4 linked regions of the Homo sapiens genome follow. The protein of the gene in region 1 interacts with the protein of each later gene in a biochemical or structural test. Each region holds a gene or a part of one and is shown in the gene's direction. Other genes may lie near its edges.

Region 1 (6,956 bases):
CTATACATGTGACATATGTAGCAGCATAACCGACAACTGGGACTGCGCTGCCTTGACTCCACCTCTACATACAATGACTCAGCTAACCAGACTAATAAAAGCCATGTTTGCACCATTGCTCAGGGAGGCATTGCTTTGGGGAATTATTCCCAGTGTCCTCCTTACTTATCGCAAGTAATAAAATCCCCCTGGGAAATCCTCCTTGGTTGTGGTCATTGGACTGTCCCCTGCCAAGCAATTTAACCCATTCATTGTGTGGGTAACAAAAGGCCAGTCTGGGACATGAGATCTGGGTCTACAGTTTAGTTCTCAAAGTCTTTGGCATGCAATTTAGGACCAGATTCATCATACCAAAAAAGGGAGATAGTCTCAACAGAATTCTCAAATTACTTAAATATCAGAGGCAGTGTAGAGAAGGAGTACTTGGTGGTATGGTAGGTTTTCTGACAGGAAACAAAAGATGGAGGTAAAATGGAACCAGTACTTTCTTTCTGAGAATACTGACTGCACCAACCATAACATGAAGCGAAGGCTATATCTCCCTGAAGTAAGAAATGTAATAAAGGAAACTTTCAGAAATAATAGATCATCTGGAGATGTTGGGCAGTGTATTTGGTAAGTTATAACTACCAGGTATCAATACAATAAGCTTAGTTTGAATACAATAAGCTTAGTTTCTTTTTAAAGAATTTATCCTGCTCTGTGTTCTCTGAGCTCCTTGGATTGGTTTGGTGTCTTACAAATTTTGGAAATTCTCAGCCATTATTTCTTGATTTTTTTTTTTTTTTTGAGATAGAGTCTTGCTCTGTCGCCCAGGCTGGAGTGCAGTGGTGTGATCTCAGCTCACTGCAAGCTCCGCCTCCCGGGTTCACGCAATTCTCTTACCTCAGCCTCCCGAGTAGCTGGGACGACAGGTGCCTGCTACCATGCCCGGCTAATTTTTTTGAATTTTTAGTAGAGACGGGGTTTCACTGCGTTAGCTAGGATGGTCTCGATCTCCTGACCTCGTGATCTGCCTGCCTCGGCCTCCCCAAGTGCTGGGATTACAGGGGTGAGCCACTGCGCCTATTTCTTGATTTGATGTTGATATTTTCCCACCAGTCTTGGATGCTGTGTTCTGTTTCTGTCACTCTTTTTGTGTGTGTGTGTGTGTGTGTTTCAGCAATTTCTATTTACCTACCTTCAAGTCTGATTTTTTCCTCAACTGTGTTCAGTCTCCTAATGGGCCCATGGAGGGCATTCTTCATCTCTATTATTATATTTTTTATTTTTATAGTTTCCATTTTATTTTTCCTGATAGTTTCCATCTATTTGCTAAAATCACCCATCTGAGCTTGCATTTTGTTCACCTTTCCCCTTAGGGCCTTCATCACATTAATCACAGTTATTTAAAATTCTCTCATATTTCTAATGTCTATGTCTTATGAATCTGGTTCTAATGATTGTTTTATCTCTTTGGACTGTGTTTTTTCTTGCCTTTCTGTATGCGTCTTTTTTTCTTTCTGTTAAAAGTTAGTCATGTTGTATTTTTTTTGCTTAAATTATTTTTTCAATTCTCTCTTCACAGTATGAAGTAAAGATTGTTTTTATGCTTGGAGATGAGTGTGTCTTTCCTTCTGCTAGGCCTTTAGTGCTCTTGAGTGCATAGCAGTGGTTCGGTGGTATCAGTCTAGTCAGAAATTGGGCTAGGTTTACAGTTTGTTGTTGTGGTTATCCTCAGTGCACAACAGACTTCAAATTTCTCTAGAGATAGCTTATGTGTAGGGTGTGGACTTTATTTTGAAAGTGTGTTTTAAAGAGGTCTGTATGGATGTCAACTCGATGCAGAGTGGACAGTGGTAATTTTGTAATATATCAACTTTGCTAAGCTAAACTATGTTTCCCAGAATTTCCTTTCCTTTTGTTTCTGGTTAGAATAGCCCAACAGAGACATGGTTGTGTAAGTCTTGAAGGGGAGAACTGAAGCATCCCTCCAGTTTTATACTTGAAACGGTGGTGCAGGGACACTAGGTGCTACTGCGGCTCATCTACTTTGTCACCAATCAGCTGGTTCACCTTGTTGGGATGGGGCAGAAGCTTTTCCCTGAGTCTTCCTTCACCTTTTTTGATTCCTGAGCTGTGTGTGTGTCTAGTCCTGTGGCAAAAAGTGTCAGCTCCTCTAGCAAGGATACTCATATCTTTAAAGTTGGAGACAGTGAAAGAATGACCAGCTCGTGTCTTAGGTTCCAACTCATTTTTGCTCTTCCCTACTTTATGTTCATCTTCCCTTCTTAACTGCTTGCCCTGCGAACATAAAGAAACATAGTGATTCCACTTCTCTGAATGAACCTTGGCTGGTATACAGACTTATAGACATTTTGTGATGGAGAAAAATTGTTAATTAGGGAGCCTCACTTAGTAAAGAAGGAAGGTCATCTCTGGTATGGCAGGAATAAAGACATAAGGATTTTAAGGGATTTACCTGAAAAGATTTAAATGACTACTGTAAGGGGAATAAATACTTTGCAGGAATGCTGAAACTTCTCATTCAATACTTAGGTAAACATATAGACACACAGATGCCATAAACACTCATGGTAAACATCAGTAACTGTTAAGAGCATTCCTTCCTGCTTGGTCCCTATTAAAGAACCAGATCCCTTCTCCATAGAGTATTCCAATTTGCAAAGAAAATCCATTCATTAGTTGTCCAATTTAAATGTTTTAGAAATATTCAGTGGAACTTTCATCAATAACCCCCAAACAGATACCTCAAGAACCCCTTTTTCTAATCATTTAATCATACTACTTACTGAGAAAAATTATTATAGGAAAGGCAGTATTTGATATTGGGACATAAAAAGAATGAAAAATCTGTTAAATAAGCAAAAGCCCATTAGCCTGAGGCTGTCTTGGTACTTGAGTTCCCATATAACAAAATACAACCTGACTTAGTATGTAAACGAACTGAAGCCTAACTTACTTTATTTTTTATAACAGCTGGGTTTCAGCCAATCACGGCCGAGCTTCAGCAAATAACAGACAGCCAACTGATCAGACCATGCCCCAATAAGGCAAATGCCTCATCATATCATTGTCAAATAAGGCAGACACCTAGATGTTAGCTAATGAGGTGATTTCTCTACTTTGCTTCCTATAAAAGCTAGCAGGTCATACTGCTGGACAGAGCTCTCTGAACCTCTTTTGGTTCTGAGTGCTGCCCAATTCATGAACTGTTCTTTGTGCAAATAGCTTCTATTAAATTTGTCAGTCCAGAGTTTTTTTTGTTTTAAACAAATATTCACAAGAAAAGGAAGAAAGTGGGAAGAATAAAAAGCAAAGCACCTCAGAAACACAAGATCGAAAATCCACTTAAGGGATATAGATAATTCCCTGAAACAGGTGAGCATATTATTTGTTGAAAGCCTCCATGGATGTTCTTTGGGATAGCAAAATGGTTGCTACTTTTCAAATTGGATACCAAAAAGGCAATGTATCTGCATCTCAGAATCCAAATCATCCCCACGTTAGCCAAACTCCAGGCCTACCAACACAGATCCTTCAAGTCTTCCTGGCCTTCCAGGCCCCTAGGCTGCAGCTCGCCCAGAACTCCTGGGACTCTAAAACTTAAATCGGTCTAACCAGCAGGCGAACACAGACCTGAACCCTCAAACTTGGAAAGAAAGATCATAGGCACCTCCCCGGTTGGCTCCCCCAGGGACCACAACGTCCGGCTCTAACGCCTTGCCCAAGTCCTCTGTAGCTTTCCACAGGCATTTCTGGGTCTCTATAGCTGTTTGGAGGAGCCACTCACCGGTCCCGTCCTGCCCCGCGCCTAGGCCTGAACCAACCCCCTCGCGGTTCCGGCGCGGATACCCAGCAGCTTCCGGTCTTGCGCGCTCAGGCCGGGCAACGTCCGTGCGTTCTTTTTGGGTCCTGAACCCCGGAAGAGAAACTGCGTTGTACCCTTTTACGTGAGGCGGTGACGGCGGTTCGGAAGTCGTCTGGCCTCCCCGCGGCCGCTCGCAGCTTGCTGGCCTCTCCCGCGCCTCACGTCGGACTCCGTCTCCGCGGCAGGGAAGCAGCATGGAAGCTGAGGACATCCAGGAGGAGTTGACCTGCCCCATCTGCCTGGACTATTTCCAGGACCCGGTGTCCATCGAGTGCGGCCACAACTTCTGCCGCGGCTGCCTGCACCGCAACTGGGCGCCGGGCGGCGGCCCGTTCCCCTGCCCCGAATGTCGGCACCCATCGGCGCCCGCCGCGCTGCGACCCAACTGGGCCCTGGCCAGGCTGACTGAGAAGACGCAGCGCCGGCGCCTGGGCCCCGTGCCCCCGGGCCTGTGCGGCCGCCACTGGGAGCCGCTGCGGCTCTTCTGCGAGGACGACCAGCGGCCAGTGTGCCTGGTGTGCAGGGAGTCCCAGGAGCACCAGACTCACGCCATGGCACCCATCGACGAGGCCTTCGAGAGCTACCGGGTGAGCTGGCCGTCGCGGTGACTATGACGGGGCTGTCAGTGTTGCCCGATAAAGTTTACTTAATGCTCCTAAAAGAGCCACGAAGTGGCTGTCATTCCTACTGGAAGCATGAAAAGCCCCTGAAACTCAAAGAAGTTAAGCAAAACACGAATTTCAGAGCTAGGGTTAAAACTGGAATGAGAGGAGGGGAGGTGCAAACCTCAGCAATCATTGTGCAGAATTTTCAATAAACTGGCCCTTGGGGAGCTCATAATAAAGAAAAACATACTGAGAGGGTGTGTGCCGCTGCTGTCCAATAGAAACCACATATGTAATTTAAAATCTTTCTGGTAAGATAAGGAAACGAGGTGACGTTAATTGTAATAATATATTTTATTTAATCTGATTACCCCAAATATTCAAAGCTGAGATGAAAATTATCAATGAGATTTTTTTTTTTTTTCTGAGATGGAGTCTCACTTTATTGCCCAGGCTGGAGCACAGTGGCGTGATCTTGGCTCACTGCAACCTCCTCCTCCGGGGTTCAAGCAGTTCTCCTGCCTCAGCCTCCCGAGTAGCTGGGATTACAGGCACACGCCACCACACCCGGTTAATTTTTGTTTTTTAGTATAGAGGGGTTTCACCATCTTGGCCAGGCTGGTCTCGAACTGCTGACCTCAAGTGATCTGCCCCGCTTGGCCTCCCATAGTGCTGGGATTAAGGTGTGAGTCACCACGCCCGGCCTCAATGAGATATTTTATACTCCTTTTTCATAATAGGTCTGAAATTGGTGTGTATTTTACATTTACAACACATAGCAGTTTGGAATATCCACGTTTCAGGTGCTTGTATGGCTAAATGGATACTGTATTGGACAGTGCCTGTCTGTATCTGTAAATGTCATAGACAGCTGATGATTTGGGAAAAGCCTAGCTTGTAATGATGAGGCTGGGTTTTGTTACTAGCTTCCTTCATCAGTTGGGAAAATCCTGTAACATTTGAATTTGGGGATTATCTGTCCTATCTCATGGGTTAAGAAGCTCCGGTTGAATAAATCACTTTACCTTACTCTGCTTCAGCCATACTGGCTTTCTTGCTTTTGTTTCAAGTCTGTTCTCTTTCTCTACCCACATCTATCCTTTAGATCCTTTTAGCTTTTAGCTTGAAGACCTTCCCTGATCATCCTTTCCAGAGTAGCCCCACCCCCTCCCATTACTGATGGTGTAACTCCAGTGGTCTCCAGCAGAATTGATATGCAGTAAGTACATGAACACATGAATTTATTTATTTATTTTATTATTATTGTTTTTGAGATGGAGTTTCGCTCTTGTTGCCCAGGCTGGAATGCAGTGGTGAGATCTCAACTCACTGCAACCTCCACCTCCCGGGTTCAAGTGATTCTCCTGCCTCAGCTTACCGAGTAGCTGGGATTACAGGCACCTGCCAGCATGCCCAGCTAATTTTGTATTTTTAGTGAAGACAGGGTTTCACTATGTTGGTCAGGCTGGTCTCGAACTCCTGACCTCAGGTGATCCACCCACCTTGGCCTCCCAAAGTGCTGGGATTACAGGCGTGAGCAAGCTTTCCTGGCCAAACACATGAATTTAATGACACAGTGAAAATGTTTGGAAACTGTAAAATACTGTACAGTTGTACCAGCTGACTATGAACAGGAAACAGACACAAAGCTGGACTAGAAAGTGTATGTTCATTCCTTCACTCAGTAACGTTTATTGATGCTTACTATTTGCCAAACATTGTTTTAGAATCTGGACATAAGTGGATGAGAAAGACATGGGCTTTGTCTTGTAAGGAACTTAAGCGTGTACAACATTAATTTCAGTGTGTGTGAGAGTAGCTGAAGTATTTACCAAGTGTACAGAAGGTCTGAGGTCGGAGTGATCACTGAGGAGTGAGGAAAGGCTCCGTTGAGGAGTTAAATGTGTTAGCTCTTCAAGGGTGAGTAGAGGTAGGAAAGAAGGTATTTCAGGCCAAAGGAACAGCATATTCCAAATGTGGTGGAGTGGGATAGCATGTGGTGTGTGAGAGGACTGGAGGTTGCTCAGTACTTCTGGAGCATGGAGCATGGGAAGGAGGATGGTGGGCCATGAGCTTGAAGAAAAAGGCAGGGCCTTATCATGAAGGATCTTGTTTGCCATAGTAAAAAGATTGAACTTTCTCTTTCAGGCAGTGGGGAGTTATAAAAGGGTTTTAAGGCAGGGAATGATATGATCGTTTTTTTTGTTTTAGACAGGTAACTTTGACATCCACGTGGATGAATGGAAGAGAAGACTAATTAGGCTGCTCTTGTACCATTTTAAGCAGGAGGTAATAAAGACCTGAATTAGTTCAGGGCAGGGATGATGGAGAGGGAGGGATGGAGTGATAATGAGCTGGAGTTGAATGACTTGGTGATCAATTAGACTTGGTGGGTGAGAGAGAGAGGAGTCTTGGATGGTAGTTCAGATTTCTGCTTCAGATGGCAGGTAGATGACTGTCAGGTTAACTGAGGTAAGGTA
Region 2 (7,898 bases), on another chromosome or scaffold:
AGTTTCTGGGCTTGTCACTGTACATGGCTGCGTGTGTGTGTGTGTGTGTGTGTGTGTGTGTGTGTGTGTGTGTCCCCAGCCCCCGCCCCGCTCAACTGCATGTGTCTCTGGGACAGGCCCCTTGACTTTCTCATGGCTAGAGGCCAGGGCAGGAAGGAGCACCTGGTGTAAGTGAACAAATGGGTGTACATCTTGGGGTTCCCACATTCCCTGGCTTGCAGCTCTCAGAGGGTCTCCAGAGTTGACCAGAGCTGCCTCTCTTGGAACAGCCAGAGGGTTGAGGGTGAGTACGGGGCTGGGCCTAGAGGCAGAGGGCTCAGTAGAGCCCCTTTCCTTCACTGAACACGGGGGGCTCTTTCTGCCCTTGTAGGAGGTGTTCCGGCAGCACCGGGGGCCACAGCTCCTGGCCCTGGTGGAAGAGGTGCTGCCCCGCCATGGCAGTGGCCACCATGGGGCCTGGCACATCTCTCTGAGCAAGCCCAGCGAGAAGGAGCAGCACCTTCTCATGACACTGGTGGGCGAGCAGGGTGAGCGAGGGCAGGTGATGGGAGGGCCCAGGAGGGCAGTGGGAGGCGGGCGGCCCCTGAGGGTCACGGGAAAAAAGTGCACGCATAAGGGCTTTGAAACTTGGAACTCCAGGACAGTAGTTTGAGCTACTTAGCTTAGTGGTCAAGGTGTACCCACCAGCTTGGGTTCTGGGGACAAGGAGGAGGGTGTGAGAATTAAGGATGGGGAACAGGAGGCAGGGGAACAGGTGTGGTCCAGCACAGGTGGGAGATGAATGGACACTGTACCTGGTGTGGCAGGGGAGAAGGGGTGTGTTCAGAAGGCAGTGTGTGGGCTTCGCAAGTGGCTGGCTGGTGTTATACAAATCGATGTTCTAACAGATCGATGCAGTGGAAAGCATGTCTAAGAGAGGGGGAGGCATGTGCCTTGAGGATCTGTGTGCAATTTGAGCCAGGAAGGGAGACAGAGGCTCAGGCCAGCTGTTGGAGAGCGGGGCCAGAGCCCTTGGAGGGGCACGCACCTCAGCCATGGTCACACTGATAGTGGTGTTTCTTACCCCCCAGGGGTGGTGCCCACTCAAGATGTCCTTTCCATGCTGGGTGACATCCGCAGGAGCCTGGAGGAGGTAAGAGTGCAGGGACCTGGACCTGTTAGCTTCTAATATGCTCCCTCCTGTCTCTGTTCCTCAAAGTCCCAGGAGTCTGCCCACATCGTGAGGTTCAAAGGAGTATAAGACAGAGCGTGCTCTGGGCAGGTTCCTTGCTTCAGGCCTCCCTTAGACATGGTTTTGTGGGAAAGACGGTGCATGTGCATGCTACCAACCAAAGGTCCAATGCAGGCAATGGCCAGGGGCAGAAAGGGGCCATGGGGGTGTGGGGGCTGTGCTAAGAGGCTGACAGTCAGGAGAGGGCCCAGAGAGGAAGGGTCTGGGGAGCAGTGAGGGTTAACTGGGAGTTTTCTGGGTAGACAGTGGCAGAGACACCATGCTGCCTGGTGGGAGGGGCGAGCATGATGGGTTCCAGAAACCAAAAGAGCAAGCCTGGGAGACCTGGACATGTGACTTGGCGTGGACGTGTGAATCTACTGGTGCTTGCACGGCCAGGCCCTGCGCTCCTGCTGCGGTGAGATGCGGCGCCTGGGGGCCAGGAGGCAGCCCTGCCATCTTAGGAGGTGCCCCCACCCAGTGCAGTCTGCTGGCTGCCTGGCCCATCCCGATCAACCTCTCCTACCCAGCTGCCGCACAAGCTTGGATGGGATGGCAGGGTCCCCCAGTCCTGCTCCTCACACCACCTTGCCTATGGGGTCCTTCTGTTCCTCATCTCACTTCTTGAGGACAGCCACCATCTCCACCAAAACTGCCTTTGCTCACTGTAGAGTCCAGTGCCCTGTCATCAGCCCTCTCCACTCCCGAAGGTGCTGCCATTTTTGGCAGGAGAGATGAGTGGTATAATGCTGGCCGCCTCTTCATCCTTGCATGCCAGGGGAGCAGAGGCCCTGGTGGTGGTGCTTTTCTGGTGAGCATGTCGAATGCCCACTGAGCACCACACTGTGCAAGGCTCTCTCCCTCAGTCCTCGCCACCACCCCATGGGGTTGTGAGGGTTAAGTGAGGCACCTGTTGAGTACCAATGGTGTCCCCATGGAAGATGAGAGCTGAAGCGGGAGAGGTTAGGTGACCTGTCTGAGATGGCACCAGCAGTAAGCGGTAGAGCCAGGCTTTGCAGGAAGCCTGATTCCGGAGCCCGGGCCTTTCACCACACTGCTCTACTGCCTGGAGGGCCACTGAGGCCCTTCCCAGTTCTGGAATCGTGGGTCCATGAACAGTGGGGCTGCTGGTGGAAGTGTGGGCTAACCTTGACCTTTTATACAGTCCTCCCCCTGCTTTTCGCTGCCCCTGAGTATTCTGGCGTTACTGGTCACTTAATTCACACTGACTTGGCCAAAAGTCATGCTGGGTCTTTGGAAATATACTCAGGTGAATCTAGCAAGAAAAACTGACCCTTGATAACAAAAAATTGAGAAAAGTACTGGAGATACACGGGTGGTTCACAGAAACCGGGGAAGAGCTGCAACCTGAACTCAGAAAGGGGGCCTGGTGCAACCTAGGCCTCAGCACTGGGAACTGCCCTGATCCCTCACCTGAGGAGCCCCTGGTGGTGCTCGCCCTCCTGCTTCTCTCTGCTAAGATGCTGATCTGTGGAGATAGCACCTGCCTGGCCCCTGGCGCCGATCTCCTTGGCCAGAGAAGGCAGGACTGACCATGACAACCTGCAGCGTGGAGGGATGCAGGCAGCTACATGCCAGCAGTGAACACGCCATGGGAAGGGAGGAAGCTGGGCAGCCGGGGTGGCCCCCCATGTGGCCTGCATGCCCTCAGTATCCCTCCCTGCACCGGCCCTGGCATCAGGAAGCTGACTGGTCCACCCCTCCCCACCGAGGTGGAAGCGGTTGTATGGTGGAGGATGTGTGGGGGGCTCACATCTCCTGTCTCTCTAACTAGTTAGGATAGGTGTGGGCACTCTCTCTAGTTGGATGGTGTCCAGCAGCATGGGTCCACTCTCACTGGAGGCCTAGGGCCACAGTGAGCTCAGACTCAGCGGCTGGGGCAGAAGCTATGGTGGGATGTGAAGGAGGCTGGGAACATGGGCATGGGGTGGAGAGGCCTCCAGGTGTACTGAGGCAAACGGGATGGGCATGGGGTAGAGGCAAGCCCAGGCGCCAGGGAACTTCAGGAGCCGGGAGTGCCAGCACCTTCTAAGCCTGCTCCCCCATCCCCACCCGAGCCCAATGCAACCACCCCAGAGGAGCCATGGCACCCCAGGACCTCAGCTGAGGAAACTGGCCCCTCCCACCCCTAGATTGGCATCCAGAACTATTCCACAACCAGCAGCTGCCAGGCGCGGGCCAGCCAGGTGCGCAGCGACTACGGCACGCTCTTCGTGGTGCTGGTGGTCATTGGGGCCATCTGCATCATCATCATTGCGCTTGGCCTGCTCTACAACTGCTGGCAGCGCCGGCTGCCCAAGCTCAAGCACGTGGTGAGTGTGGGGACAGGTGGGGCTGGGGGCCAGTTGAGAGGAGAGTGCCCATCGATAGGTGTCCTCATCTGCAAGGGGAGGCAGTGACTCTCCTGGGCGCACAGGGTCCCGTGGGTGAAGCAGCTGGTCAGCCTAGCACTGCTGACTGCTCTGCAGGGCACCAGCCCCAGGACAGGTGCCAGAGGTGCAGGGAGTGAGGGGGCTGCTAGCCCCACCAGGGGGCCCCTCCCTGGCACCACCAGCCCCTTTCCGGCGCAGGCACTGCAGGGCCTGAGCACCTGAATACCTCACCAGAGGCAGGCCCTGCGTTGGTGGTGCCCAAGGATCAAGGAGAGGCTCCAGCAGCCTAGAGGCCTCCCCAGGAGGAAGCGAGCAGAGCCCTAGCGATGCTCCCTGCCCACCTCGCAAGTGGAGTCTTCTTAGGGGGCTGTTGGGGGATCGATGACGTCAGGGAGGCCACGGGGCTTTGTAGTGCCAACGACTAGTAGGTTTATTTTGAGAAAGGAGTTGAGCTGCAGCAACAGAAAAGAAGGATCTGGCACCTGTGGAGGGTGCCGCGGGAACCCCCTGGGTGGGGTTGCACAGACGGCCGCGGGCCTGGCGCTGTCCGGGGGCTGGCTCGCTCGCCCATGGCCTCTCCCCACCCCGCCTCAGTCGCACGGCGAGGAGCTGCGCTTCGTGGAGAACGGCTGCCACGACAACCCCACGCTGGACGTGGCCAGCGACAGCCAGTCGGAGATGCAGGAGAAGCACCCCAGCCTGAACGGCGGCGGGGCCCTCAACGGCCCGGGGAGCTGGGGGGCGCTCATGGGGGGCAAGCGGGACCCCGAGGACTCGGACGTGTTCGAGGAGGACACGCACCTGTGAGCGCAGCCGAGGCGCAGGCCGAGTGGGCCGCCAGGACCAAGCGAGGTGGACCCCGAAACGGACGGCCCGGAGCCCGCACCAGCCCCGCGCCTACCCGGGCCGCCCCCGCGGCCTGGCCCTCGGCGCGGGCTCCTTCCCGCTTCCCCCGACTTCACACGGCGGCTTCGGACCAACTCCCTCACTCCCGCCCGAGGGGCAGGCCTCAAAGCCCGCCTTGGCCCCGCTTTCCCGCCCCTGAACCCCGGCCCCGCGGGCGGCGGGCGGCGCTTCCTGCGCCCCGGGACTCAATTAAACCCGCCCGGAGACCACGCCGGGCCCAGCGCGTCTGCCTTCTTGACTCATTCTTATTTCCGGGGTTGGGGCGGGGCGGGGCGGGCGGGGCACCCCGGGGCAGGGGCGGGGCCGCGGGGCGGGGAGGCCGGGGCGGGCGGGTCCTCCGGACGCCGCTGCAGAGCGGGGCGGGGCGGGGCTGAGCGTGTTTACATCCGCCGGGTGCGCGGCTTCGCCGCCCGAGGTCGTTCGGCTCGGGTACCATCCTCCGCGCCATGGACACCAGCGACCTGTTCGCCAGCTGCAGGAAGGGGGATGTGGGCCGAGTGCGGTGAGGACCTCGCAGTCCCGGGGAGGGTGCGGGAGGTGGCCGCCCTCGGAACGCCTCGGGCCCTGGGACGGGCGGCTGGGCGGCCGCGGAGAGGCGGGCGCCTCTGCCGGGTCACAGCCCTCGGAGCGCCCCCGCGGGGCAGACCACCCGGACCCCCGCCGCAGCCCCCCAGCGGAAGCGCGCTGGGGCGGGGACACTGATGGCCATTGACCCCCGGAGGGCTTCCTGTAAGAAGGGACTGCTCAGCGGAGGCCCGAAGGCGCAGAAGTGGGCGGAGAGAAGGCGGGCCACTGTTCGCCCTGGTAGGGCCCGGACGTCAGACCCCCCGGGCGCAGGGCGCGGGTATAGGCCTGGGACTCCAGACGTGGCCCCTTTCTCTCGTGCTCTCTGGACCTGGCGCGGGGAACACCTAGAGCCCATAATCGGCCTCCGGTCCCTGAGGATTCGGAAACTCCTGACGCAGCTAAAGTGAATCTGGCGCTGAGATGCCCCCTCCATGGGCCGGACGCGGAGGGAAGGGGTGCCCAGTTGGGTTCTGGGGCCCTTCCCCTCCTTGGGCTTCCACTATCCCGTTTGACCTCCTTTTTTCTTGGCCCTTCCTCCCCCTTGACCTGGTGCTGACTGACTGCTTCCACCTCCCCTGGGCTGGCGCCGGGCTGCTGTACTCCCGTAGCCTCCCTGGGCCGCTCCCTGACATCCCGTGCCACTCAAGAGTTAGTGCATAGTGTCAACGCTGAGTGGGTTCACAGCACTTCCAGGTGCAGCCTGGAGGCCTCCTTTGGGCTGCCCCCGCCTCAGTGGGGCTGCATTAGCATTGGCGACTCCCCTCGCTCACCTTCCGCATCCCATCAGTTGCTGTATCCCGCGACTCCTGCCTCCTAGAATTGTGTGCCCTCCACACCATCAGGAGGCCTGCAGCAGCTTTTTCCCGGGCTCCCTGCTTCTAACAGGGCCAGCTTCTTCCTGCAGTAGAGAGCTCTGGTGGGAGTGAAGGCTCCATCACCTCCTCTCCCAAACGCTGAAAGGCCAAAGGTCCAGCCTCGGCACTGGCTCTGGCTTCTGTCCCTGTAGCCCATCGTCCCCCAGCACTGATAGCACACAGTGTCTGCCTGTTCGACCCCACCTCCACATCCTTGCCTGCACTTTGCCTTGAGTGCCTCTCCTGCTCTGGTCTGCCTGTCACCTGCCCTCACCTGGGGGAGGCTTCCCCATACCAAAAGGGATGTTTTCTCTCCGTTCCTTTCCACGGGCCTTCTTTCTCAGACCATGAACCCGTCCTGACCCAGGCTCTGACCTCCTTCCTGCCCAGGTACCTGCTGGAGCAGCGAGACGTGGAGGTGAATGTGCGGGACAAGTGGGACAGCACCCCCTTGTGAGTGCTGGAGAGAGGGGTGGGGAGGGTGGGGGTTGGTGCACCCCTTCAGCACTGAGGACTGCCTCCTGTACTTCCTTCCTCCCTTCAGGTACTATGCCTGCTTGTGTGGGCACGAGGAGCTGGTACTCTACCTTCTGGCCAATGGTGAGAGCAGGGAGCCCGGCTCACGGGTGTGCGTGGGTGCATGCATGTGTGCGTGTGGGTGCATGCATGCGTGCGTGCATTCAAAGGCCTTGATACACATTTGCAAAGCACCACGATTCCTCTCTTACCACCCAGTCGAATCAGCAAGTACTATTATTGCTACTTTAAAACCTTTTCTCTGTCCACCTTGCCCATCTCTACTTCTACGACCTGGGCCCAGTCATCAGCATTTCTCCCCGGACACGGTGCCTGCCTCTCTCTTGCCATTGCAGCCAAGTTGATCTTTTCACAATGAATCTGATCGGCTAAAAATCCTCCAGCAAGTTCCCATTGCCTCTAGGATACAGTGAGCCTGCCTGGCCATGCCCAAGGCTCCACAGGGTCTGCCCTCCCACTGGCCTCATTCCTTCGGCTCTCCCTGCTTGCTTGCTGCTTGCTTGCTGCTACACTGGCCTCGCTGGGGCTCCACTGTGCTATGCATGCCCCTGTTCCTGCCCCAGGGCCTTTGCACCTGCAGTTCCTCCTGCATGGACTGCCGTTCTGCAAACGTTCACATGGCCCACTCCCCCTTCATTCAGGTCTCTGCATGCTGCCACCATTACAGAGTGACCTTTCATGACTTCCCTTCATTCAGTGCCATTCTTCTTCCTATTTTGGTTTTTTCTTTTTTTTTTTTTTTTTTTTGGAGACAGAGTCTTGCTCTGTCACCCAGGCTGGAGTGTAGTAGTGTGATCTCGGTTCACTGCAGCCTTAACCTCCCAGGCTCAAGTGATCCTCCTGCCTCAGCCCCTTCAAATCTTCAAATAGCTGAGACTACAGGCGTGCACCACCACGCCCGGCAAGTTTTTGTATTTTTTTTGCAGAGATGGTGTCTCACTATGTTGCCCAGGTTGGTCTCAAACTCCTGAGCCCAAGTGATCCACCTACCTTGGTCTCGCAAAGTGCCTGGATTATAGGTGTGAGCTGCCACGCCCAGGCTTGTTTTTCTTAATAGTCCCTGCCATCGTTAGGTAGTGGGTTGATTGTCCTGCCTCACTAGAGTATAAGTTCAGCAGGACAGGGACCTGTGTCTCGTTCACTGCTGTGCTCCAGTGTGTGGGACAAGCCCAGCCACCAAGTCAGCTCTCCGTTCTGTGTTGTCTGTCTTCCGTGTGAGTGAGTATGTGCCTGTGTGAGTGCACACAGACGTGCCCATTCGCCTAGCCCTTGACTGGGAGGGTGTTGGGGTCAGAGTGGGCCCAGGGTAATTTGGGAAGGCATCGCCAGAGATTCGGAGCCCCATGTGTGGGAAGGTGGGGAGGAGGGACAGGGAGATTAGAATTTCCCCCAGGCCCCTTCCCTGCTAACTGGTGAGCCCTGCCTCCCCCA
Region 3 (7,379 bases), on another chromosome or scaffold:
TCCGCCTCCCAGGTACAAGCGATTCTCCCACCTCAGCCTCCCCAGTAGCTGGGATTACAGGTGTGCGCCACCATGCCCAGCTAATTTTTGAATTATTTATTCCTTTTTTTCTTTTCTTTTCTTTTTTTGAGACAGCGTCTTCCTCTGTTGCCCAGGCTGGAAGGCAGTGGTACAATCTCGGCTCACTGCAACCTCCACCTCCTGGGTTCAAGTGATTCTTCTGCCTCAGCTTCCTGAGTAGCTGGGATTACAGGTGCCCACCACCATGCCCGGCTAATTTTTGTATTTTTAGTAGAGACGGGGTTTCACCATGTTGACCAGGCTGGTCTCAAACTCCTGACCTCAGGTGATCCACCTGTCTCGGCCTCCCAAAGTGCTGGGATTATGAGCCACCATGCCTGGCCTACTTTTTGTATTTTTAGTAGAGACTGGCTTTCACCATGTTGGCCAGGCTGGCCTCGAACTCCTGACCTCAAGAGATCCACCTGCTTCGGCGTCCCAAAGTGCTGGGATTACATGCCTGAGCCACCGTACCTGGCTTGTTACCATATACTTTTATAGCACAGTACTTCACATTGATTAAAGAACTCTCATACTAACTGTGTCATTTAACATACACAACCACCAAGCAAAGGAGACAGGACAAACAGTAGCATCCCATTTCCAAGGCTGAGTGCAGTAATGGAAAAAATAAGAGTTTTTATGAATAAGACAATCTGAGTTCAAATCCCAGGCATCTTGTTCAACTTTTCAGAGGCTTTGTTTCATCCTAAGTAAAGTGTAGACAGTACATACACCTCATGGTCTTTTAGAATGAGTCAAGGATTGAGTACTGCACGTATACAGTACTCAATGTTTCCTTCCATCATTCCACAGAAGGAAGGGCTACAAGTTCACACACCTACTCTGACTTTAAAGCTCCAAGCAGATTATCTTTCAACTCCCATGCTCAACCTTTCCGTGCTCAGATTCAAGAATGTAACTCAGCATCTCTTTAAAAGGTGTTTAAAAGATTAGTCACTGAGATACTCTACTAAAAGTTTTTTGTTCAAGTAGATTTGTGAAATGTCACTCTCTTGAAATCTCACAAAGTGTGTATGTGTGTATATATATGTATGATACCGAAGGTTCTGAGAAGTCTTGCAATAAAGAAATCTATTTGAACTCATTCTAACTAGCATTTCCCAAAAGTGCATTTAATGGAATCCTTTTTTACATAATTACCATAAACATCCACACAGACCTAACTTTCTTTTAAACATACTTTTAGGAAAAATGGTTTTGATAAATTCATGTCTAACAAATTATAATAATAGATTAGATTATAATAGATTAACAATATTAATAACAATAGATATTATTATAGGACAGGGCACAAGAAATTATCCTTTAAACAAGATCCCTAAATCATTCTTTTGCAGCCTGCATTGAAATTGCACATTGCCTAGCGTCAAATTCAGAAAAATTTATTTAGGCAACTAAGACATTTTTATTTTTGGATTTCAGAATAAGTCTGCCACAGACACAAAGATTCCAAGAAGTGGCTCATAATGTCATCTAGCAGAAGACACACTTGGGGAAAAAGGTGGGGGAGGGGTATTATGTTTTGTTGCAAAATTGATTTTGTATGAGGTTTCTTACTCCCCAAATCTACCTTCAGAAAACGGTAGTATCTAATGATCTAATGCCACATCACTACCTCTCCTGTCCTTATCCTTGGTCTCCTGATGACCGCAGAAAGCAAGAGAGAGCCAGAGTGGAACGAGTGAGCTGTTAACTATAAATTACAAAAATGAGGACTCCTTTTTTCTCTGAAAACCAAGAAAGCGGTTACTCTGTCACAATCCAAAAAAAAAGGAAATTAATCAATCATCAGTATTTGTCCTGAAATTTTCCGCAGAGGTCTCTGGTGTGATTAAAAACGTGGGGGAAGGTCAGGCGCGGTGGCTCGCGCCTATAATCCCAGCACTTTGGGAGGCCGACACGGGAGGATTACCTGAGGTCAGACCAGCCTGGTCAACTAAAAATACAAAAATTAGCCGGGCGTGGTGGTGCGCGTCTGTAATCTCAGCTACTCGGAAGGCTGAGGCACCAGAATCGCTTGAACCCCGGAAGCAGAGGTTGCACCACTGTATTCCAGCCTGGGAGACAGAACAAGACTCTGTCTCAAACAAAACAAAACAAAACAAAACAAAACGTGGGGAAGAGGCCGGGTGCCATGGTTCACGCCTGTAATTCCAGCACTTTGGGAGGCTGAGGTGGGTGAATCACTTGAGGTCAGGAGTTTGAGACCAGCCTGGTGAAACCCTCTTCTACTAAAAATATAAAAATTAGCTGGGTGTGGTGGCACATGTCTGTAATCCCAGCTACTGGAGAGGCTGCGACAGAAGAATCGCTTGAAGCTGGGAGGCAGAGGTTGCAGTGAGCTGAGCTCACACCACTGCACTCCAGCCTGGGCAACAGAGCGAGACTCCGCCTCAAAACAAAAACAAAAACCGTGGAGAAAATGCTAAACTCGATTTCTTCTGAACCTATGCTAAGATGTCAAGGTACTGTGATTCTTCTAAAAGAATTTTAAAGGTTGTTATGTTTGGTGTCCTAAAAGTGTACATGGATTTTATATTATAACCTACATCAAGAAACTCATTCAGGCCAGGCGCCTTGGCTCATGCCTGTAATCTCAGCACTTTGGGAGGCCAAGAATTCCAGACTAGCCTGGGCAATATGGCGAAACCCCGTCTCTACAAAAAATACAAAAATTAGCCAGGCATGGTGGCTCTCCCTTCAGTCCCAACTACTCGAGAGGCTGGGGCAGGAGGATGCCTTAAGCCCAAGGAGGTAGAGGCTGCAGTGAGCTGTGATTGCACCACTCCACTCCACTCCAGCCTGGGAACAGAGTGAGACTCTCAAAGAAAAAAAAAAAAAAGCCTTATTCACAGATAATTTTTTTTAAAAATGGAAACTAAAATAGAATTTAAAACCCAAGCTGCTCAGTTTCTTGGAAGATGGATTTTTCCTACTTGGTAATATACTTTGTATATCTCGACTATTATTGTGCATGCAAGCACCTCTAAGAAGTACTTGTATCTGCAATGAATTCTTAAACCTCAGGGAGCCAAATAAAAAGACAAGGCCCGAGGAATTCTTTCAAAAATTAAAGTAACATTTCATATTTGCTTATTCTAACAGACAAAGAATAAAGAAGGAATCCGCTAAGTTGCAAGCTGAGGTGCAGACAAGTGCTGGTTCACAGTGACATCCTAGAAGGAATGCTCTGGATAAGAGCTTCAAGCTTCTGTGGTTTTCTGAGGAAAGTGAACGGAATCTAGACGTGTCCTATAGCTCAAAAAATCAGCGCTATGGACCACAGCGCCTAACAGAGTAAAATAATACACTGTGCAGTTTGGCCACTAACAGCAAGAGTGGGAAGGGGCGAAGAGGAACCTTGATTGCCCGACACCAGGGCCACCTGAAAAGTCATCTTGACACTTCAGTCTTTCCATTTTGAGATCGGAAGCTTTAAGGACCATTAAATCGCTGCCGCTGCCACACCAGGCCCGACGGAGCAGAAAGGCTGCGCTCACCTGCGGAAGCGACCGGGTGCACACCTGCCGGGTGGCGAGGCCCGCACCGTCACACCCCGCCCCGGCTTACCTGCCCTTCGGTGATTTTTAGCGTCAACTTCCATCCCTTCCCACCCATCTGGATCCAACCAAGCGCAAGGGCGGGGGAGGGAGAAGCTAGTGTCGCGAGGAAAAGCATCCCCGCAACCCACCGCAGGCTTTCTCTCCTTCCTCCCCATTCCACACAAGAGGCAGCCACACCGCCTCTCCTAACCCTCGTCTCCAATGCAAGGCCTGAAATACTTAGAAAAAATAATAACTGTTTTTAAGGAAAAGTAACATCCCCGCTCCCTTCCGCCCCTCACCTTCACGAAAGCAATCGGGGTTGTGGTACCTTCGATATCTAACAGGATCACGGTGACTTCGGCGGGGACCGAAAGCACGACCATTTCCCTACCGGATGCTACGGGACTCGGCCTGCTGTTGGGGAGGGCGGAGGGCGGCGCCGGCTGCGGCTGCGGCCCCCGGTACCGTCTTGGGCTTCCGGCGGCCCCGCGCGATCTCGGAGCCAGCGACCAAGTGCAGCCCGCCGCGCGTGGGGAGAGGACACTTCTGCACACCTGGAACTGGAAAAGGCGGCCGCCCAGGAGCCCTGAACTCGTGAGCAGGACGGGGCAGGAGCCCGAGACCACGTGGGCAGGAAAAGGGGCGGCCCTTGACGGGTTCGGCGGGGCGGGGAGGGTGAAGGCGCCAGCGCCGATTGGCCGCCGTCAGGCCTCGAACTGGATCCGTCAAAATGGGCCTCGCGTGGGCGGGAACAAAGAAGCGAACGCGGGAGCAGGGTGCGCGAGAGCGCGCCCTCCGCAGACAGGTTGAGCGAGCGGGAGAGGCCCGGGGCACGTGCAGAAAGGAGCCCCGCGAGTGGCGCGCCGGGGATGTGAGTGCCCCTTGCCCTCTACTGAATCCAGCCCCCTCCCCGCCCACCGCCTCCGCCTTTGCATAGATACAGTCATCTGGCCAGCCCCCGCCCCTCCTCCCGGCGTCAGCCCGCCAGAGGCCGCGCGGGGCCCGGGCTTCGGCCGATCAGCCCGGGAGGCCCCGCCGCGCCCCCTTGGCCCGCGCGCCCGTGGTCACAGTGGAAGAGGCGCCCGCGCTGCGCTGCCCGGAGGAGCCGTCGCGCGCCCGCTTCCTGTTCGGCTGGTTCCTGCCAGCTCGAGGACAAAACACGCGTGCGCGCGGCGGGCGAGCGCGCTCGCCGCCTCAGTCGCCAGCGCCGGGCGCAGTCCGCCTTTTTCCGGAGCAGACTGGCCGCGGTGCTAGTCGGTAGCAGCGGCCGCCGCAGCGGCTCCGCACTGGCGAACCGAGGGCAGAAAAAGGCGGGGTTGACGGCTTTTTGGTAGGAGTGGGCTGGACCGGACGCCAGAGACAAAGGCTCCCAAGGCAAGAGGGACTGTGGCCCTGCGTCGGCTCTGCTCGGGACTGCTGACCCCAGGAATTTACGCCCCTTCGTTTTTCTCTTCTGATTCTTCTCTTCTCCCAAGCCCGCGTCCCCTCACGCGTGGCCTCTCTCCTTGCCGGGAGGGCCGCGATGGAGGTCCCGCCCAGGCTTTCCCATGTGCCGCCGCCATTGTTCCCCTCCGCTCCCGCTACTTTAGCCTCCCGCAGCCTCTCCCATTGGCGGCCGCGGCCGCCGCGGCAGCTAGCCCCGCTCCTCCCTTCGCTCGCTCCCAGCTCCGCCCGGCAGGGGGCGCGCCGGGCCCAGCGCCACGTCACCGCCCAGCAGCCCTCCCGATTGGCGGGCGGGGCGGCTATAAAGGGAGGGCGCAGGCGGCGCCCGGATCTCTTCCGCCGCCATTTTAAATCCAGCTCCATACAACGCTCCGCCGCCGCTGCTGCCGCGACCCGGACTGCGCGCCAGCACCCCCCTGCCGACAGCTCCGTCACTATGGAGGATATGAACGAGTACAGCAATATAGAGGAATTCGCAGAGGGATCCAAGATCAACGCGAGCAAGAATCAGCAGGATGACGGGTACCGCACGCTTCTTCCCCCGCTCCCCCTCCCCCAGCGCGCCGCACGCGCCCTTCGTTCCTCGTGAGCCGCGCGCTGCCCCCATTCTTTCTCAGAGTCGATTCCCCGCGTGCCTTCTGGGCCCCACTAGATTGGAGGGAAGAGGAAAGTAAGAGATCGAGGGGGTGACTGGAGAGACCCGGGAAGAGTGGGGGAAGGGCGGAGGGGTTGGAGGAGGAGGGCGGCGGCGTCTGTGTCCCGAGCGCGCAGGCGCCGCGTGGGACCCGGGGGGGAGGGGCCGGCCTCCCAGCGCTGCACGCTGCAGCTGCCGCCGCCTCTTCATTGTGTCTCTGTTACCACTCGGCGCGGTTTTCCTGGGAAGAGTTTTAGAGGACTGAGTTGGGGCACAAGCAGGCGACTGGTACCCAGATTCACAAAACGTGTTATGATTGATGAGTTCTCTGGGTGGAACGTTGGCTTGACAGCTGAGAACGAAGATGGACCTAAGTAAGATAAGATGTGAGGGATTCATCTAGGAAGTTGTGCCTTCTACCTAAAGGAATCTGGGCAGAACCTTTACTGTATTTTATTGGTCTCTTTTGAGCTTTGCTTTATGTAGTGCGGACAGTGAGCTGTCCGCTGGTTTGAGTAACTTCGTTGGGATATTGGGATTTTTGTGTGACATAGATTAAATGTAAACATGAATTAAATTGCCTACACTTAGGGGGTAAATGTCCCTGTTTTTATTTCACGATTTAATTCCAGAACTGAAGGATCATTTGAGTTATTGTTAATTTTTTTTAAAAACACTTTTATTTCTAGTAAAATGTTTATTGGAGGCTTGAGCTGGGATACAAGCAAAAAAGATCTGACAGAGTACTTGTCTCGATTTGGGGAAGTTGTAGACTGCACAATTAAAACAGATCCAGTCACTGGGAGATCAAGAGGATTTGGATTTGTGCTTTTCAAAGATGCTGCTAGTGTTGATAAGGTAGGAACTATGTTTTGCATTGTGCTGCTTTTGTGGTGTTTTGCAAATTTTTCTGGGGGTTATATGGTGCTGTCAGATTAAATAAATCTGTCTTGTAGGTTTTGGAACTGAAAGAACACAAACTGGATGGCAAATTGATAGATCCCAAAAGGGCCAAAGCTTTAAAAGGGAAAGAACCTCCCAAAAAGGTTTTTGTGGGTGGATTGAGCCCGGATACTTCTGAAGAACAAATTAAAGAATATTTTGGAGCCTTTGGAGAGGTGTGTGATTATGTTTACACATGTTAAGCTTGATGTGTTTATAAAATGTTCAATCCTTGTCCGATTTATGCAGGGCAGATTCATGTTTCCTGTAAGAGTAGAATTAAATGACTGCTCAAGTCGCTTCCAGTGACTGTACCTTGATTTCATTGCTGCTCTGATGGAAACCCAACTATCTAATTTAGCTAAAACATGGGCACTTAAATGTGGTCAGTGTTTGGACTTGTTAACTAGTGGCATCTTTGGGTACAAAATAATATTAATTTCTCTCAATGCTTCAAATATACAACAAATCACTGTAGGCTGATGTTGATCATAAAGCAGTGATGTCTGTATAGAAGTCACCCGATAAGAATAACATGTTTAAGTTGAAGCCTGAAAAGGCCTTTGGCATTCTGACACTGTAACGTTTTACAATTATGGGATGACGTTGAGTGTGCATCTCGATTTCAGATTGAAAATATTGAACTTCCCATGGATACAAAAACAAATGAAAGAAGAGGATTTTGTTTTATCACATATACTGATGAAGAGCCAGTAAAAAAATTGTTAGAA
Region 4 (7,021 bases), on another chromosome or scaffold:
TGAAATTTTTGAGAGTAAAGACCATGAATAGAAATAATTGAGATTATTGATTAAAAACATGAAAGCAAAGATTGACATAGTTAAACAAGTAAATCCTAGAACTGGACAAATCCTTAGCTATCTCTCTGTGAAGGTCCCTTCCTTTGGGCCTGCCATGGAGATAATTCCATTGAATTTTACTTTCATGGCATAGCTTCAACTTGCATTCAGGACATTCTAAGAAATAGCCAGGCTAAGTTTAGTGCTGTAAGTCTTGCATGGCTGTGCAGGGATATTTACCACTATGTGGCCCAGTGTGCTTTTGGCATAGGCATTTTTCTTTTAACTTATTATTTTGAGATAATTATAGCTTCACAGGAAGTGGAAGAGGAAAAAGCATAGAGAGGGTCTGTGTACTCTTCACCCAGTTCCCCTCAATGGTGACACCTCATGTAACTATCATACAAGATTAATACCAGAGAATTGGCATTGGCACAATGCAAAGGCTTTATCAGATTTCACCATTTTTTTTTTTTTTTTTTGAGATGGAGTTTAGTTCTTGTTGCCCAGGCTGGAGTGCAATGGTGTGATCTTGGCTCACCGCAACCTCCGCCTCCTGGATTCAAGTGATTCTCCTGCCTCAACCTCCTGAGCAGCTGGGATTACAGGTGCCCTTCACCATGCCTGGCTAATTTTTTGGTATTTTTTTAATAGAGATGGGGTTTCACCATGTTGGCCAGGCTGGTCTCGAACTCCTGACCTCAGGCGATCCACCCGCCTTGGCCTCCCAAAGTGCTCGGATTACAGGCATGAACTACCACGCCCGGCCCCAGATTTCACCACTTGGACATGCATTCATTCATGTGTGTATAGTTTAATGCAATTTTATCACGTCAGTAGATTCGTATAACTACTGCCACAACCGAATTTTGGAACTGTTCCATCACTAGAAAAGCCCCTTCACTCTGCCCCTTTACAATCACCCCATCCTCCTCATCCTACCTGTCCCCAAATGTAGGAGTTCTTTTCACCCTGGCCTCTGTATCAGGGAATGTGGGTTTGAAGTTAGTTTATGGATGCCTTGAAGCTTGTAATTGACTATGTTCATCCTGTCAACCTAAAATAATCAAAAGGCTCAGGATCCAATTAAAAGAGTTTATTCAAGTGCAAAGATGAGGGCCGCCATCCAGACAGCAGAATGACAGCAAAGGATGGTGATCACTGCACCTGGGATGGGGAAAAGGGAGAATCATTTATACAGGCAAAGCCAGAGGTGCCGAACAGAAACACATTTTCTTTTTTCTTTTCTTTTTTTTCTTTTTCTTTTTTCTTTTTCTTTTCTTTTCTTTTTTTTTTTTTTTTTGAGATGGAGTCTTACTCTGTCACCCAGGCTGGAGTGCAGGGGCGTGATCTCGGATCACTGCAACCTCCCAGGTTCAAGGGATTCTGGTGACTCAGCCTCCCAAGTACCTGGGATTACAGGTGCCCGCCACCACACCCAGCTAATATTTTTGTATTTTTAGTAGAGATGGGATTTCGCCATGTTGGCCAGGCTGGTCTCAAACTCCTGACCTCAAGTGATCCCCCTGCCTTGGCCTCCCAAAGTGCTGGGATTACAGGCGTGAGCCACCATGCCCGGCCAGAAACACATTTTCTGTATGAAGGCTACTGTACAAATGTAAGATTTGATTGACTACTACTGTTTATACTCTAAGGGGGTTGCTTAACAGTCTATTGTAAAGAGGTTACAGTCGCAAGGGTCTCTGTCTCCAACATCAATTAAGTCTAGGTTAGAATGAAGGATAGGGAGTCCGGTTAAGGTAGAACATCTCCATCTGGTTTTGCACAACCCTTGCAAAAGTCAGTCAGCAAGGGTTGTGCAAAAATAGCTGTGCTATGTGACTCTGTTTTCAGAGCTTCACTTTTCCCCTTGGCATAATCAACCTGGAAGGTCCTAAAATTTTATTTTCTTTTTACAATCCCTTTGCTTTGGCCATTGGTAAGTTTAGGGCATGATTTCTAGTGCCCCCTGAGGACCTTGGAACAGGCTTCCCCTGTGGCTGGATAAGCTCCTCACTTAACCAGTCTCTTTCTCTTATTTTATCCTCAGCTCATTTATTTCTCTTTGGTTCCTTTGCTTTACATAATATTTTAGTAAGTTTCTTCAACTCTTTCTGCATTGAGATAAAATATAAACATTTAAACTGAAAAAAAACCTCTACCACGTCATCTCTACTTATTATTTATATCTGACATTTTCCCTCCAGCCTCCCTGTCTCCCTTTCCAGAGCTGCCTAAAGTTATGTGAGTGTTTGCCTTCCTTGTTCCCCATTCCTGAGTGTGTCTTTCTACTGCCCTCACAGCTGAATTGACTCAGGATACAATTCCTAGATCACAATCTTTTCCCTCTTAAAAAAATGTAAACACTGTTCCATTTTCTTCTAGTTTATAGTGTTGAAGAAGAGAAGTTTTATACCAGCCTGGTTTTTCTCCTTTAGTAATTTTTTTCTGCTATATTGCTTGTATGTTTTTATGTTTATTCTTTTTTCTTTTTTGAAACAGAGTCTCGCTCTGTCACCCAGGCTGCAGTGCAGTGGCACGATCTCGGCTCACTTCAAGCTCCGCCTCCCAGGTTCACGCATTCTCCTGCCTCAGCCTCCTGAGTAGCTGGGACTACAGGCACCCGCCACCACGCCTGGCTAATTTTTTTTGTTGTTGTTGTTAGAGATGGGTTTCACTGTGTTAACCAGGATGGTCTCGATCTCCTGGCCTCGTGATCCGCCTGCCTCAGCCTCCCAAAGTGCTGAGATTACAGGTGTGAGCCACCGTGCCCGGCCATTTTTATGTTTATTCTTATACTTAAATGATTTCATCTGGATACCTCTGGCCCTATTAATTTTGCTTGGCAGCAGACCCAGTGAGGTTTTTATTGTGAAGACTCAAATCTTTCTTTATCTTGGGGAAGATTTATTCTGTTGATTTTCTGATGACTGTCTCTTGTAAGTAGAACATTCTTTTCTTTGGAAAGGCCTGTTACTGACATGACAAATCTCCAGTGTTCTCCATGGCTCCTCTAGCAATGGCCACAGCTAGGTGTGGTGCAGCTGTACCAAGGTTTTCCCTCCTTGGTGGGGTGGGCTAAAGTGGAGGGACACAGCCCCATGTCCCCTGCTGCCGTGCTCTGCCTGCCCAATGCTGCCGGCACCAGGTTACCACGCAGGGCTCCATGGGCCGGCATCCACTGCACATCTCGAGCACATCCTCTGGTTTGACATGGGGTCACACGGTGCTGCCAGTCTTTGCCACACTTGATTAGGGTGCCAGCTTCATTAGAAGTAAGGACGACTGTCAATTAAGCATTTCACTCATGGGTCTTGAGACTTCTAGTCTCAGCTTCTGTCGTGCCTGGGGAAGCACCTCACTCTCTCTTCTGCCTGGGGAGGCTGTAACTAGAAAACAATAAAACAACAACAACAACAACAAACTGTCCAGAGCTGGAAAAAAACAAAAACAGCCAAAATTGAGTTTGCATGTAAAGAGGCTTACAATCAATGTGAAAATTTCGGACCAATATCTGGTTAGAATCAGTAAACCATCAGGACTTCAGAATAAGGGGAACATGCTGGGCAGAAAGAAGAGCAGGGAGGCTGCAGTCAGGATTTTCTTTACCAGATCAAAACTCTAATAAAAACAACTACTTTTACAGTGTTGGGGGGAAAGTGTTGAATGCAATAAGAAGACATCCCCATGGATGATAAGCTTCTCACAAGTTCCTCCTAGGCTTTGGTGTGCTCAGATCATCCCCAGGGACCTTCTCCTGACACTGACAGATAAGTCCAAGGTGGGCAAGTCAGGAGCGGAAGGACTCATGCTGGGCATGGACATCCCAGCCCTTTGCCCATTGTTTCCAGGGAATTTTGGATCGCTGGATCTGGCGGTGTGATTTTGTTACTTCTCCCTGGCGCATGACGCACCAAGGGATCGGCTTTCTCCCCCTGCCTTTCCCGTTCTATCTCTTTCAGGGGCATCTCCTTTTCCACAGACCCCTCCTCTCACTCTCCAGGGACCCAGCTGCTCTCTTCCCATATCGCTTCTCTTGGACCTCAGGCCTTAAGTTCCTTCTTCCAATGCTTCTTTTACTTCTGAGCCTGAAGTCCTGCAACAATGTGTCTAGAAGATCAACAAACCTGCAGTACTGGGATAGCTGCTATCTAAGACTGTATGCCAAGACCCAGTCAACCAACTTGAATATCAACTGGTCTCAGAGAACCAGTTGAGACTACCAGCTGCTGAGAAAGGCATTCGGAATGTCAGAGGAGGGCTATTTGCTGCATCTCTTAAATGGCTTCCCAATGTTTTCTTTGATAGAAATGTGATTTGAAGGCAAAAATACCCCTTTTCTGTTGCAGCGAAATAAACAGTTTTTCATTTCAAGGCAAATGAAGTCACTTCCTAAGCCTTGGTGCCCTACTTAGAAGCAGTTTGCTGTAAGGGAATCATAGTGAATACCTTGCAGGATTGATCTGTGGTTTTGCAATGATGTATGTAAAGTGCCAATTAATACTCTCAGCTTCTCTTTGAAATGCCTGGGGAGAGAAGTAAAAGAAGCGCTTGTTGTTTTAAACAGTCTAGACCAACCATTTGGAGTGCATTTTAAAGCAGTGCCAGTCTCTGAGGTGTGGGAGGCCTGTGGCTGGCCTGGGAGGGGCGATCTGGATGGAGGAGTCATGGCCCCCTGGGCTGAGGGTCTGAGAGCAGAGTGTGGCTGAGTGGTGGGTCTGCTCTGTGTCTTAGACATTTCTGCATTCGGGAGTTATAACAGGTGACGTGGAAATAGTTAGCAAACCGAAGGAGGATTTGCAAGGGAGTATTGATTCAATCAAACTATTCATCCAATAAATAAATATGCAGATCTCCTTTATGCACTGTGCCAGGCCCTGGAAGTCTAGTGGTGAACAAGATACAGTCCTTGGCCTCAGCAAGTTAACAGGGGTCAAACAGATCATTAAACAAATCATGATGCCCACAGCTTGGTGCAGGTTGAAGGGGCTACACAGGCAGGTGAGCACTTGCTCAGCCTGGGCATTGTGGGGCATCTCCCTGAAGAAATGATGAGTGAGCTGAGCCTGGAGGATGAGCAGGAGATGACAGCTGGAGGGGTATGGGGAAGAGGGCTCTGGACAGAAGGTGGGACCCCAGCTAGGAAAGCCAGGTCCAGAGAGAGAGGGAGGTGGGCACAGTCAGGCCGGGGAGGTGGAGACCAGCAGGGCCGAGCGCAGAGACAACGCGAGAGCCTTGGAAGGGGTGAGGAGGAAGGACTGCTGCTGGGATGTGGTGGGACAGACAGGGAGGAGCTTGGAGCCAGGAGGAGGGGACTCAGGGAGACACGGTATGCAGGAAGGACAGTGCTTTCATTTACTGTGTCAGCAGGACAACCCCAGAGGTTGAGTAGGCATTGACGGGTTTTGTCTCGAGCTTCGGATGTGGGTCTGAGTTAGACTTTGGGAGACGAGGGGAGAGGGGCCTCCTGAAGTATGGGATGGGGGCATATTAGAGTGAGAAAAACAGAGCAGGGACCCCGGGAAGCATTGCATGACAGATAAGGTTTTGCAATGCCCAGGCTAGCAGCCTGCTCCAGAGCCCTAGAGGGAAGTCTTGGGCGTTAGAGTCTCAGGATGACCTGGGACAGACTGACCCCCAAGCCCTACCCACCACCCTTCAGGGGCAGGGGTCTTCTTTTCTGCCTGAGGTGCAAGTCCTCTGGCCAATGCAGGCTGCTAGCCATAGTCTGCTCTGTAAATTCCCTTCATCCTCAATTCATTACTTAGCAAGTAGCTACTGCAAGCCCCTCAGATGGAGTGCACTGTGATGCATGTGCTACAGACTGCCCTTTCAGAGCTTGCAGTCTGGTGGGGCCATGCACTTGGCCACTGCAAAGAGGGGGTGCCCAGGAGGGGATCCTGACTCAGGGGTGAGGGGCCAGGGAGGATGGGCTGAGGGGTGGAAATGCCATCTGGGTCTTGGAGGGTAAAGAGGAATTAGGGGCAGAGGCACAATGACCATGGTGGGCCGAATGGAGCATGGGACATTGCACGTGGCAAAGGGGAGAGGGTGGAGGGAAAACGGCATTGGGGTGAAGCTTTGAAGGAAGCCCTGTTACTGTTTGTAACCCAAACTTATCCCCTCCAACCATCGTCACAGAAAAGATGTCCTTTCGGGCAGCCAGGCTCAGCATGAGGAACAGAAGGAATGACACTCTGGACAGCACCCGGACCCTGTACTCCAGCGCGTCTCGGAGCACAGACTTGTCTTACAGTGAAAGCGTAAGTCATGCGCATCACCTGTTTGAAAGGTTATCATTGTAACCTTCGTAAGCCGTCAAATCCTGCATTTGCACATTGACTTTTAGAACATTTTAAATGCCATGTCTTTAAAATTCCTTTCACTACTTAATGCTCAGTGCTCTTGTTTCCGGTCTGAGCCTTGAATCACAGTCCCTTCTCCAGCTCTATGGCCAGGGTCTCAGTTTGGGTCCATCTGCATTTGTTCTTGTAATGGCCTCCTAGCTGCACTCCTTCACACTGTCTCTCCTGGTTCCAGGCCAGCTTCTACGCTGCCTTCAGGACACAGACGTGCCCAATCATGGCTTCTTGGGTGAGCTGGAGTCGGGGTTGGGTGCCAGCGGGAGGTGTGTCCTTAGCACCTCTCTACCTCTTCCTGCCTGGCTTTGCTGACACTGGGCTGAGTTCCCTCCTGCAGGTTTTCCACCCACTCTCAGATCCTGTCCAACACTCTCATATCCTGTCCAACACTCTCATTTGTCAAGAAATTAAGACAACATTCCAGCCTGACATCCAGTTCTCATGGACTACAGTGTTAAAAGTCGGGATAGCGGCTAGCTTTGGAAAGTAGGAATTGGTGGTGGGAGGCAGTTCTGGGGTGTTGCTTAGGATTTTGATCTCACTGGTGGGTTCCATGGGGGCTGACTTTGTGATCTATCATTGAGCTGTAAGAACACGCACACACAAACAAATACGCAAAA

The links.
Region 2: the proteins of TRIM4 (region 1) and ABTB1 form a complex in vitro, tested with the Homo sapiens proteins (one study listed by BioGRID).
Region 3: the proteins of TRIM4 (region 1) and HNRNPDL form a complex in vitro, tested with the Homo sapiens proteins (one study listed by BioGRID).
Region 4: the proteins of TRIM4 (region 1) and TRPM8 form a complex in vitro, tested with the Homo sapiens proteins (one study listed by BioGRID).

The regions. Positions count from the first base shown.
Region 1 is NC_000007.14:99,916,511-99,923,466, reverse strand, and holds the start of TRIM4 (E3 ubiquitin-protein ligase TRIM4), read left to right. Parts: upstream 1-3,936; 5' UTR 3,937-4,065; coding exon 4,066-4,458; intron 4,459-6,687; coding exon of another isoform or gene 6,688-6,765; intron 6,766-6,956. UniProt on the Homo sapiens protein: E3 ubiquitin-protein ligase. Mediates 'Lys-63'-linked polyubiquitination of the innate immune receptor RIGI, this linkage doesn't lead to proteasomal degradation but seems to enhance IFN induction.
Region 2 is NC_000003.12:127,668,071-127,675,968, forward strand, and holds the start of ABTB1 (ankyrin repeat and BTB/POZ domain-containing protein 1), read left to right. Parts: upstream 1-4,881; 5' UTR 4,882-4,955; coding exon 4,956-5,011; intron 5,012-6,274; coding exon of another isoform or gene 6,275-6,320; coding exon 6,321-6,383; intron 6,384-6,474; coding exon 6,475-6,530; intron 6,531-7,898. Other genes in the region: PODXL2 (podocalyxin-like protein 2 precursor), read left to right, coding at 371-527, 1,071-1,132, 3,364-3,543, 4,198-4,410. UniProt on the Homo sapiens protein: May act as a mediator of the PTEN growth-suppressive signaling pathway. May play a role in developmental processes.
Region 3 is NC_000004.12:82,427,463-82,434,841, reverse strand, and holds the start of HNRNPDL (heterogeneous nuclear ribonucleoprotein D-like), read left to right. Parts: upstream 1-4,379; 5' UTR 4,380-5,151; coding exon 5,152-5,594; intron 5,595-6,395; coding exon 6,396-6,564; intron 6,565-6,662; coding exon 6,663-6,824; intron 6,825-7,277; coding exon 7,278-7,379. Other genes in the region: ENOPH1 (enolase-phosphatase E1), read right to left, coding at 3,929-4,012. UniProt on the Homo sapiens protein: Acts as a transcriptional regulator. Promotes transcription repression. Promotes transcription activation in differentiated myotubes. Binds to double- and single-stranded DNA sequences. Binds to the transcription suppressor CATR sequence of the COX5B promoter.
Region 4 is NC_000002.12:233,920,353-233,927,373, forward strand, and holds part of TRPM8 (transient receptor potential cation channel subfamily M member 8), read left to right. Parts: intron 1-6,180; 5' UTR 6,181-6,185; coding exon 6,186-6,302; intron 6,303-7,021.